2 separate regions of the Homo sapiens genome follow, and region 2 is linked to region 1. A link means that fine-mapping ties the variant in region 1 to the plasma level of a protein whose gene starts in the linked region. Region 1 holds a variant in brackets. A gene starts in the other region. All regions are shown on their reverse strands.

What was found. PIP is the chance, under the fine-mapping model, that this variant and not a neighbour inherited with it causes the effect. The UK Biobank Pharma Proteomics Project read protein levels with antibody pairs (Olink). The fine-mapping took linkage between variants from a reference panel, not from the people measured, so its PIPs are less certain.
Region 2: PLTP starts here. The variant in region 1 is fine-mapped to the plasma level of the PLTP protein (UK Biobank, PIP 0.98).

Annotation. Positions count from the first base shown.
Region 1 is chr15:58,386,176-58,391,552 of GRCh38, reverse strand. No RefSeq gene overlaps it. Among named protein-coding and RNA genes, the nearest start is that of LIPC, 43 kb to the left of the region's middle. The variant C/A (reference allele first, on the strand shown) is at 3,109.
Region 2 is chr20:45,909,502-45,914,842 of GRCh38, reverse strand. It overlaps PLTP (phospholipid transfer protein), which reads left to right and starts at 2,688. Exons shown (of 16, transcript NM_006227.4): 1 at 2,688-2,764; 2 at 3,380-3,490; 3 at 3,592-3,691; 4 at 4,773-4,901; 5 at 5,172-5,327. The coding sequence starts at 3,391.

The DNA.
Region 1 (5,377 bases):
GCCAGTTGTATTCCATCAACAAACATTTTGAGCATTTTTTATGGGCCCAGAATGATTCCAGATCAGAATTTCTCCACCTCAGCACTATTGACAATTTGGGTAGGATAATCCTATGTTGTGGGGGCTGTCCCAAGCATTGTAAGACATTTAACAGCATCCTGACCTCTTCCCACTTGATTCCAGTAACATCTACCATGACCCAGTCGTGACCATCAAAATGTGTCTGGACATTGCCAAATGTCCCCCCGAGGGCAAAGTTGCCCTGATTGAGAAACACTGTTCTGGATATGTGGGAGAACACAGGGAAAACTCCGGATGGTGTTTCTACTGCTAAGGGTCTCGTAGTGTACTTAGGAGTCAATATTAACCGTCATGAATCAATACGTGGTCAGTTAAGTACTAACTTGTGAAATATACTGCAATCTAATTTTTAGCTAATCTTGTAATTTTCTTTTTTGAGGGAGGGGTAGACAGAAATGGAAGCAAACTCTATTAGAAAAAGAAGATTGCTTTCATTGGGGAAGGAGAAGCATGTGGAATATTGAAGGAAGAAGAATTGTAGTTACTCTATCCGGTTTGTCCTGGATAAGTGCAATTCTTCAGAAGTTATTACTTTTTGAGTATTGAGAGATACGTTAATGGGAGAAAAATCACCCATATATCTCAGCTCTACTGACTTACTCTAGTGAGCAACAAATCTTCTGTTTAATTCCGTTTATAAATTCAACTTGAGTCCTGATCGTTTTGAGGAATTAAACGGTTCTTCAAGTGAATCCATAACCCAGTGTTGCCCTGGACATATTTAATAGCAGATTCTGGGTGTGTAAGATTAAGAGACACAATCCTTCAGTCTTTTCCCAAACAGTTTTATTACTAAAATGATTCATGCACTGGAAGTCATTGAAATTGATCAGTGGTGATTTATATTCCTGGCAGACAGTGCTTTTGAGGTTCTTTTCCTTAGTTGTGAAGTGTCAGTTGTCCAATGAAAGTTGCCAGTTGTTCAATGAAAATTTTGTCCCATTCTATAAGAAATTCACAATCCCAAAAACATTCTAAAGCCTGCAGAGAGCTGAGAGGTGACTCTGGATGCTGGTTTCAGCGAGCTGTACGTGGCTGAATATATAATGCAATAAAGCTAATCTGAGACACAATGTGACAATCAGTAGCAATTCAATGTGTGCTGAATGAAAGATTTAATATTAGCTTAGTGTTGCGACAAGATGCAAGACACAAGTCAATTTAGGGATGGAAGCCTTTCAACTGGATTTAGCAATCATCCAAAACTGGTTGCTGGATCTGGCAGAACTCAAACTTGGGCTCCAGCACCTCCACTCTCCTAGTGTCCATTGTCATTTGTGAAGTGGGGCTGATGTAAGTTAAAAGAGTTTATTTCTGCCTTAGCAAGTTACAGAGCTGTTGGACTGGAAGGGAGTTGGGAGTTACCTGGTTGAACTCCTCATTTTGTGAGCAAGGAATTGCAGGTCAAGAGTGATGATACAATGATTATAATTAAAAAATTAACATACACAGAGTGTTATTGTTTGCTAGATACTCCACTGAGTGCTGTACAGACATCGTCTCACTTTATCCCTAGGAAGTGGAACTATTATGAGCCCATTGTTACAGATGAGGAAACTGATGATCAGAAATTTTAGTCACTTGCCCAAAGTCACACTAAAAGTTAAGAGCTGACAGTATTCAATCCCAGGATTCTTCTTCATGCTCTCTTGACTTTGCCACTGGGGTTTCTCATTGTAAAGCCTCTTTCACTCTTTCTCTGCCTTCTTTCCTCCTTCCCTCAACACAAGGGCACTGAACACTTCAGCTGGATCAGGGTCTGGGAAAGCAGCTTCCTGCATTCCAGAGCTAATAGTGCAGTGTGGGAGGCAAATCCAGGACAGAGGAATGCAGCAGTTCATGTTTGTCAGCTCCAGTCTTTCTCAGAAGAAGCATGTCCAGCACTTTGGGAGGCCGAGGCGGGCGGGTCACAAGGTCAGGAGATCGAGACCATCCTGGCTAACATGGTGAAACCCCGTCTCTACTGAAAATACAAAAAATTAGCAGGGCGTGGTGGCGGGTGCCTGCAGTCCCAGCTACTTGGGAGGCTGAGGCAGGAGAATCACTTGAACCTAGGAGGCGGAGATTGTCGTGAGCCGAGATAGCGCCACTGCACTCCAGCCTGGGTGACAGAGTGAGAATCCGTCTCAAAAAAAAACCCAAACGCACAAACAAAAAAACCCAAAACAGCAGCATATAAGGAAGGGAGCCCTGAACCTAGGGCCTAGGACAAGCTCTGGTGCCTCTGAGGCCTGTCTGAGCAGGCCAAAGGGCCAGGCTGACCAAGGACGCTGCCACTGGGGTGAACCTTGTCCCTGTGATTTCTCTTTGGGTGGACTGAAAGTCATGGATGTGGGCAGCTGAGGTGATCCTGTAGAGAAATGAGTTTAGTTACTCTGAACAGTACAGAGAGCCTTTGTTGAGTTTAGGAAGGGATGAAATGGCACAGAAGGAAGGCCCCTATCATGTGGCCTCCGAGGTGGGGTGGTAGAAACTTGTGTGGGTACCAGGGACTGGGCTTTACTGGGACACGGGTATTCCTGTTCTGTGACTGTCCTTCCACTTGCCCTCTGCCCCCCACCATCAAGCTGTGCACCTTCAGTGAGCAGTAGTGGCGTCTTCTTCCTTTAATCCAAAATGCCGAGATGGTGCCTGGGCTTTCTGAGGTACTCAGTGGAGATTTGTTGAGTAATTGGGAGATCCTTGGTCTTACAGTGTCCAGAAATTGAACATTGTGAGGTATATTTAGAGTATCTGGCTGGTGGGGAGAAATAGGGTGAAGCAAGCCCATATGCTATATAAACAAAATGACTCTATGTCCCAGACTTTTTGGAACAAACAGGTTTCAAATATTCCCTCTGTTTTCCCCAAAAGTACATTCGTATCCGTTTGACCGTGTGCTCTCGTATTTTGGTTCAGAAAATATGAATTGCACAGCAAAGATGACAATTTGTTATCTCCCAGTGGCTGGACTATTGATGTCTGTTTTTTCTCAGGTATCCGGAGGCTTGAGACCCTGAGTAAGCCATTACAAGGCTGTGTGGTGAG[C/A]AAGAACGCAGTAGAGCTGTCGGCTGATTTATTTAATATCTTGTTCTGGCCTATTTCTGATACATGGGTTTATCTGTCTGGGTTCTGTAGAGAAACAGAGCAGTAGGTTGTATTTCAAGGAATTCGCTCATGGAGTTGTGGAGGTTGGTAAGTCTGAAACTTGTAAGGTAGGCTGGCTGGCTGGAAAGTCTCAGGCAGCAGTGAATGTTGTAGTCTTGAGGGAGAATTTTTTCTTCCTCAGGGTAACGTGTTTTACTCTTAAGACCTTTCAACCGATTGGATGAGGGTAATCTCCCAACTATGTACCCAACTGTATTATCGAGGGTAATCTCCTTTACTTAAAGTCAACTGATCGTAGATGTTAACCATATCTACAAAATCCCTTCACATCAACACTCACATTAGTGTTTCATCAAATAGCTGGACATGATAGCCTAGCCAAGTTGGCACGTAAAACTAGCCATCACAGTGGGCAAAATTAGGACTGCCCACAACTCGTCCCTAGAGGACCATACGAGGCACAATAGTGGATCTGGACATATCCTAGTAAATGTGGCAGCAGGATTACCCTCATAAACTTCTGTTCTCTTCCCAAAGAGAAGCATCCATAGCCCAGTTGACCTGCTTGTTAAACCCCAAGGGTTAAGTGAGCAAATATCTGGGAAGTTCCCCTTTAAGGGGACTGCTGCTCTATTTTCCAGGAGAGAGGTGTTGGAGTAACTCCTCCCCATTCTCTTCAACCTCTCCTTCCTCTCCCATGGGAAGGGGGTCCTGATCTGATTGGTGTTAGAAGGGGCAATCTACTATGGGCCCTGAGCATCTCTACATGTTCTTCTGTGTATGCCACGAATGTAAGACTGTGAGTACTCTTTCCCAAGTCTGCATTTTCAGCAGCAACCTTCAGAGAGAAGGTAACATCTCTCTCTGGACACAGAGCAGGCTTTGCCTCCACCTGCTATAAAAGCAGTGAACCACCCAAGTAGAGACTTTCTTGTAACACAACTCTCTGCATGTTCAGGGTTCATCTAGGACCACGTATATTTTCCCTATGGGACCTAGTGAGAGAAAATGGGAAATTGGTGTGACCATCAAACTAATAGTTTGGCTACGGCATTTGCTGTGAGTAATACACTCATGTGTCTCTGACTCAGGAGTCTTATGTATTTTGCCAGCATCCAAAAAACAGTTACAAGCTCCTTGTTAGCTTGCAAGTAGGCTACAGTCTCAGACCCTTCACAATTCTTGACAGCAAGAGGCCTTGATTCCCTGCAGGTGACAATATTTGTTCTATACTCCCAGCTTTACCATCCTCTCCATGCAAAGCAAGCTAGCTGAGTGGGATCTGTCCTAGAGACCAAACTCTCCCTACTTCAAGATCTCATTGAGGCAAGAAATAGTAAAAACTGTTTTTGCTTCCACTCTATTATTAAGAAAGCTGATGTTTTGATTCTCAACTGGTTTAGAATCTGGAAGGGATAAGAGGAGAACATCTAGGCTCTTCCAGAAACCCCAACAAGCATGGTATGTCAGGTGGTATGCTAGGATCTGGGGGTGCCAAAGAGAAAAAAGAAATGTCCCTGCTCTCTTAGAGCTTGTAGTTTAATGGGGATGCGACTGGGGGTTGCACAGATATTAAGATAATTACAGTGTACCGAAGAAGGCTGTTTGCTGCTTGCTGGCCATCTCTTTCTACTAACATTTTTTTCTTTCTAATAACTCTCTAAAGTCACATTTTAATAATCTTGATTTGATTTAGCTGATTCCTAAGTTTGTAACAGCAACTCGTTTACAAACTAGCTCTTGGGAAGAGTTATTTCTACAAGGTTAAGCTCATGATTCTATGTCGATTTGTACCAAGTTCATTCACAGGGACTGACTTATCTTGATAATTTTGGAGCCGTTTATGTTTTGATATTACCTTATATAATAATCCAGTGAAACAGAATGCAATATTAAAATTTAAGTGATAATGTGAATATTTAAATTACATTAAAGTAAGTAATGCATACACTAGATCTTTAAGTTCAGTCGTAAATTCTACTTTCATTGTATTTTTTAGCAAATAACACTCAAATGAAGTGGAAACTCTGGAACCCATAGGTCAATCTTTCAGTGCATCCACCCATGAAATGTTGCAAGTCTGCCCGTCACTGTGCCAGGCATTAGGGTTATAGGGTAACTGAGAATTTACTTTTCAAATAGTCTAGTCTCTGGCTAGGCATGGTAGCTCACATCAGCACTTTGGAGGGCCAAGGTGGGCAGATCACTT
Region 2 (5,341 bases), not on the chromosome of region 1:
GTTCTCCCTCTACACCTTTTCTGCTTTGTTTGCTCGTGGTATGTGCCCCTAATTAAGATAGCTAGCATTTATTTGGCACTAATGATGTGTCATGTACCAGGCCCATTTATTCTTGCAATAACCTTAAATTATTGTTTCCATTTTAGGATGAGGAAATTGAAGATCTGAGTGCTTAAGCAAGGGATCAATGTCATACACCTAAGAACTGACAACCTGGGGTGTAAACTCTTGTCTGTCAGACACAAGAGTCTAAGTACATAACTACCGGGCTATAAAGCCCACCTTCCACTCTTCCATGAACAGTCTACGGATTCCCTAATAGCAGCCACAGAATTGCTTCAACCTCTACTTCCTGTTAAAGAGGGTTCATAATAGTGCCAGTCTGACAGGTTGTTAAGGTTAAATAAATTACCTAGAATTCGGATGACCAGTTGTAAGGTTTCCCAGGGACTGAGTGGGTTCCCAGGAATGGTTTCAAAATGGGGATGGCTGGATGTGTGGCTCACGCCTGTAATCCCAGCACTTTGGGAGCCCAAGGCAAGAGGATCACTTGGGTCCAGGAGTTCAAGATCAGCCTGGGCAACATGGTGAGACCTGTCTCTACAAAAAATACAAAACTTAGCTGGACATGACATGGTACCACCTGCCTGTAGTCCTAGCTACTCAGGAGGCTGAGGTGGGAAGATCGCTTGAGCCCAAGAGGTGGAGGCTTCAGTGAGCCGTGATTGTACCACTGCACTCCAGCCTGGGCAACAGAGCAAGACCCTGTCTCTAAAAATATAAATAGGCGGCCGGGCGCGGTGGCTCACGCCTGTAATCCCAGCACTTTGGGAGGCCAAGGCAGGTGGATTGCCTGAGGTCAGGCGTTCGAAACCAGCCTGGCCAACATAGCGAAACCATATCTCTACTAAAAATACAAAAAATTAGCTGAGCGTAGTGGTGGGTGCCTGTAATCCCAGCTACTTGGGAGGCTGAGGTAGGAGAATTGCTTGAACCTGGTAGGCGGAGGTTGCAGTGAGCCGAGATTGCGCCATTGCACTCCAGCCTGGGCAACAAGAGAGAAACTCCATCTTAAATAAATAAATAAAAATAAATAAATAGGCTGGGCATGGTGGGTCACACCTGTAATCCCAGCACTTTGGGAGGCTAAGGCAGGCGGATCACTTGAGGGCAGGAGTTCAAGACCAGCCTGGCCAAAATGGCAAAACCCTGTCTCCACTAAAAATACAAAAATTAGCCAGGTGTGGTGGCACATGGCTGTAGTCCCAGCTACTTGGGAGGCTGAGGCAGGAGAATCACTTGAACCCAGGAGGCAGAGGTTGCAGTGAGCCAAGATCACACCACCGCACTGCAGCCTGGTGACAGAGCACGACTGTGTCTCAAAAAAATTAATTAATTAATTAAATAAAAAAGGAAATGGAACTATTTTTGTGAATCTGTGGATTATATCAGAAAAAAAAGACACAATGGGGAAAGTCCTAGGCAAATCAGGATGAGTTAGTCATCCTTCCTAGATGAGTGTTTGGTGCTAAATACATGCTCAGCAGACATGATTATTGCTTCCCCTTTCTTTCGTCCATTTGGCAACAAAAAGGTGGCAAGCACCCACTCTGTGCCCTGTCCTAGGGTCCGGGAACCCTGTAAGCAGTAGATGGAGGTGGGGGTGGGGGTGGGGGCGGGGATGCTGTTCAGAGCACCTTGCTCCAAGGGTTCATTAAAAAATCCACCAGTGGACCGGGCGCGGTGGCTCATGCCTTTAATCCCAGCACTTTGGGAGGCCGAGGCGGGCGGATCACAAGGTCAGGAGATCGAGACCATCCTGGCTAACACGGTGAAACCCCGTCTCTACTAAAAATACAAAAAAAATTAGCCGGGCGTGGCAGCGTGCGCCTGTAGCCCCAGCTGCTGGGGAGGCTGAGGCAGGAGAATGGCGTGAACCCGGGAGGCGGGGCTTGCAGGGAGCCGAGATCGCGCCACTGCACTCCAGCCTGGGGGACAGAGCGAGACTCCGTCTCAAAAAATAAAAATAAAAAAAATAGAAAAAACAATCCACCAGCCACGATAAATGGCAGACCTCCTTCTGATTTCAGCCGGTGTGGTATGTTCCTGGGCTGACAGCACTTGTCTAGTCTTGCTTTCCCAAGTGGGAAAGGTCTCTGGGACCTTAAGGTCCCCAGGTGGTGACACAGAGACAGGTAGGGGGGCCCATAGCAAAGCCAGGCAAGGAGGTCCCGAGATGATTGTGGGTGGCAGGGAAAGAAAAAATATTCCTTGACTTTGTGCCTGGACCTGGTTGTAATAAAGGCCCAAGAGGTAGTTCCTATCATCGTGCACATTTCGCTGAAGGAAGAAACTGAGGGTCAGTGACCCAAGTGAAGTGACTTGCCCAAGATCATGCAGGAAGACATGGATAATTGTAATTTGAACCAAGGTCCCAGCAAAGTGGGATTGTTGGGGCTGAGTGGGCCGGCTCCTGCATTTCCTTCCCTCTCCCTGGGCTTGGGTCTCCCACTTGTCCAGACAGCGGCCGGGCTTGTCACGGGGCTCTGTGCAGCCTTTTCCACTCTCCCGGCTGCCAGCGTCCCGCCCCGTCCCCTCCCAGCCCCCAAGGGAGGAGGGGAGAGCTGCAGAGAGGAGGAGGGGTCGGGGAGGCCGGCTTTATAAAGGCGGCTGGAACAACCCTGCCCGCCAGACCCCGTCGCCCGGATCCCCTGAGCTGCCCGCCATCCCACGTGACCGCGCCGCCCCCCAGCTCCACCGCTGAGTGAGTTGGGGCGCGTCCCTATCCCGTTCCCAGTCCCTCGCCGAGCCGCGTGGTGCACTGAAGCCGGCGTGGGGAGGAGAGCCGATGAAGGAGAACGCTAACATGGGGGCTCCAGGCAGAATCTCTAATGGGAGAGATTTAGGACCTGAGGGAGCCGGGAGACCCGGGAGCCCACGGTCTGGTCGGCCACCTCCTCTCCTCCCCGGGCGCGAGGCCTAGGAGACCGCAAGCCACCCTCCAAGAATGCGCGTGCAGTCGTTGCCGTGGCAACGTGCAAGCCTGCATGGGCCCACCGCTAAAGGAAAGGGGAGGTTGTTGGGGGTGTGGGGGCTGGTCCCCTGGAGGTCCAAACTCATCACGCGGCGGTAGCACGAGGGAACTGGGAACGTCCCCTCCCCCGTGTCCCAAATCCTCTGGGAGCCAGAACGCAAGTCGCATCGCCTCTCTGAGCCTCAGTTTCCACATCTGCCATATGGAGGCAAGATTATTGGTTCCAAGTTCCCCGAAGAGTTATCTGGAGGGTAACGATCCAGGCTAGTTCCCACTTATGGTTGGACGTCCAAGGAATGGGTTTAAGCGGCTCAGATAACTCCTGCGACCCCACCCCACCCCCAGGCCCGCTCGCCATGGCCCTCTTCGGGGCCCTCTTCCTAGCGCTGCTGGCAGGCGCACATGCAGAGTTCCCAGGCTGCAAGATCCGCGTCACCTCCAAGGCGCTGGAGCTGGGTAAGGCGCAGGGGCAGACAGGGACGGACGGGAGCGGACGGGGTTGGGGTCGCCCCAACAGTGGGCACGGGAGCTAAGTAAGGGTTTCTCTGCTGCTTCAGTGAAGCAGGAGGGGCTGCGCTTTCTGGAGCAAGAGCTGGAGACTATCACCATTCCGGACCTGCGGGGCAAAGAAGGCCACTTCTACTACAACATCTCTGAGTAAGTGGGGGGCGGGGCCTCGCGATCCGGGGCGGGGCCTCGGCGGTGGAGGCGGGGCCCGAGAAATCTCAGGGTCTCGGGAGACTGGAGGCTGAGTGGGATGGGGCGTGGCCAAATCGATGAGGCAAGACTTAAGAAACCGGATGGGGCCGAAAAGATAAAGGCCAAGCCAGTCATCATAGGCGGGACCAGGCAGATGGGCGTGGCCTTGAAAATGTAGAGGGGGCCAAGAAGGAAGCAGGACCAGTGGATGTGAGGCGTGGTCGAAGAACAACAGAAAGGTGGAGTCAAGGAACTTCCCAATAGATGAGAGTGGAGTCTCGGGCACGGGGTGGAGTTAATCGGAGGGGTGGAGAAACTGAAGGCTCTAAGTATGGTTTAGGATGAGGGAGGGGGAATAAGGAATTGAGATGTGAGACGGAGCTTAGGTGATGGAGGCAAAGTGAACGGACTCTATTAAAAGACCGGGTGTAGCAACCCCAGGGTGTGGGAGGGGAGGGGGTGCAAGCAAACAAGACTTTTTTTTTTTTTTTTTCTGAGAGGGAGTCTTGTTCTGTTGCCCAGGCTAGAGTGCAGTGGCGCGATCTTGGCTCACTGCAACCTCCGCATCCCGAGTTCAAGCGATTTTCCTGCCTCAGCCTCCCGAGTAGCTAGGACTACAGGCGCGTGCCACCACGGTCTGCTAAGTTTTGTATTTTTGGTAGAGACGGGTTTCACTATGTTGGCCAGACTGGTCTCGAACTCCTGACCTCAAGTGATCCGCCCTCCTCGGCCTCCTAAAGTGCTGGGATTACAGGCATGAGCCACCACCGCACCTGGCAAACAAACAAACAAGACTTTTAAGCGATGGGGTGAAGCTCATTTTTAACACCTGGATCAGGAAGACCTCCTCTCTCAGCCACCCAAGTTCAACTTTGAGCCACCCAAGTCTAAGTTGGGCACTTGAGGGACAATGGAAGAATTCATTCCACCCACTCCCGCTTCCCCAGGCCTGGACTTGAAAGGGGAGCAGACAAATTTCCTGTCGTTGGGGGAAGTTCCCTCTTCTTGGCCCTGGATCTGACCCTGAGGCCTCCTGTAGGGTGAAGGTCACAGAGCTGCAACTGACATCTTCCGAGCTCGATTTCCAGCCACAGCAGGAGCTGATGCTTCAAATCACCAATGCCTCCTTGGGGCTGCGCTTCCGGAGACAGCTGCTCTACTGGTTCTTGTAAGGACCCAGCACCCTCAGGGGAGTGGAGAGTGGGTCAGGAGGGCTGGAGGTGCTGTGGGGCTGTGGGCAGCCCCCTTAGCCTTCCTGAGTTTCCGTTTCTTCATCTGTGTAACAGAAACAGGCATATGCATTTCATACGAGTTGATAGGAAGGTTTGGTAGGATGTGTGGAAAGAGGTGAAACCTTATTAAGAGGTATGGTGATGCATGGGGGCACTGAAGACTCAATTGAGCTCCTACCTGGAGTGAATATTAACCCCCCTGGCAGCTATGATGGGGGCTACATCAACGCCTCAGCTGAGGGTGTGTCCATCCGCACTGGTCTGGAGCTCTCCCGGGATCCCGCTGGACGGATGAAAGTGTCCAATGTCTCCTGCCAGGCCTCTGTCTCCAGAATGCACGCGGCCTTCGGGGGAACCTTCAAGTAAGCCCCAGCCC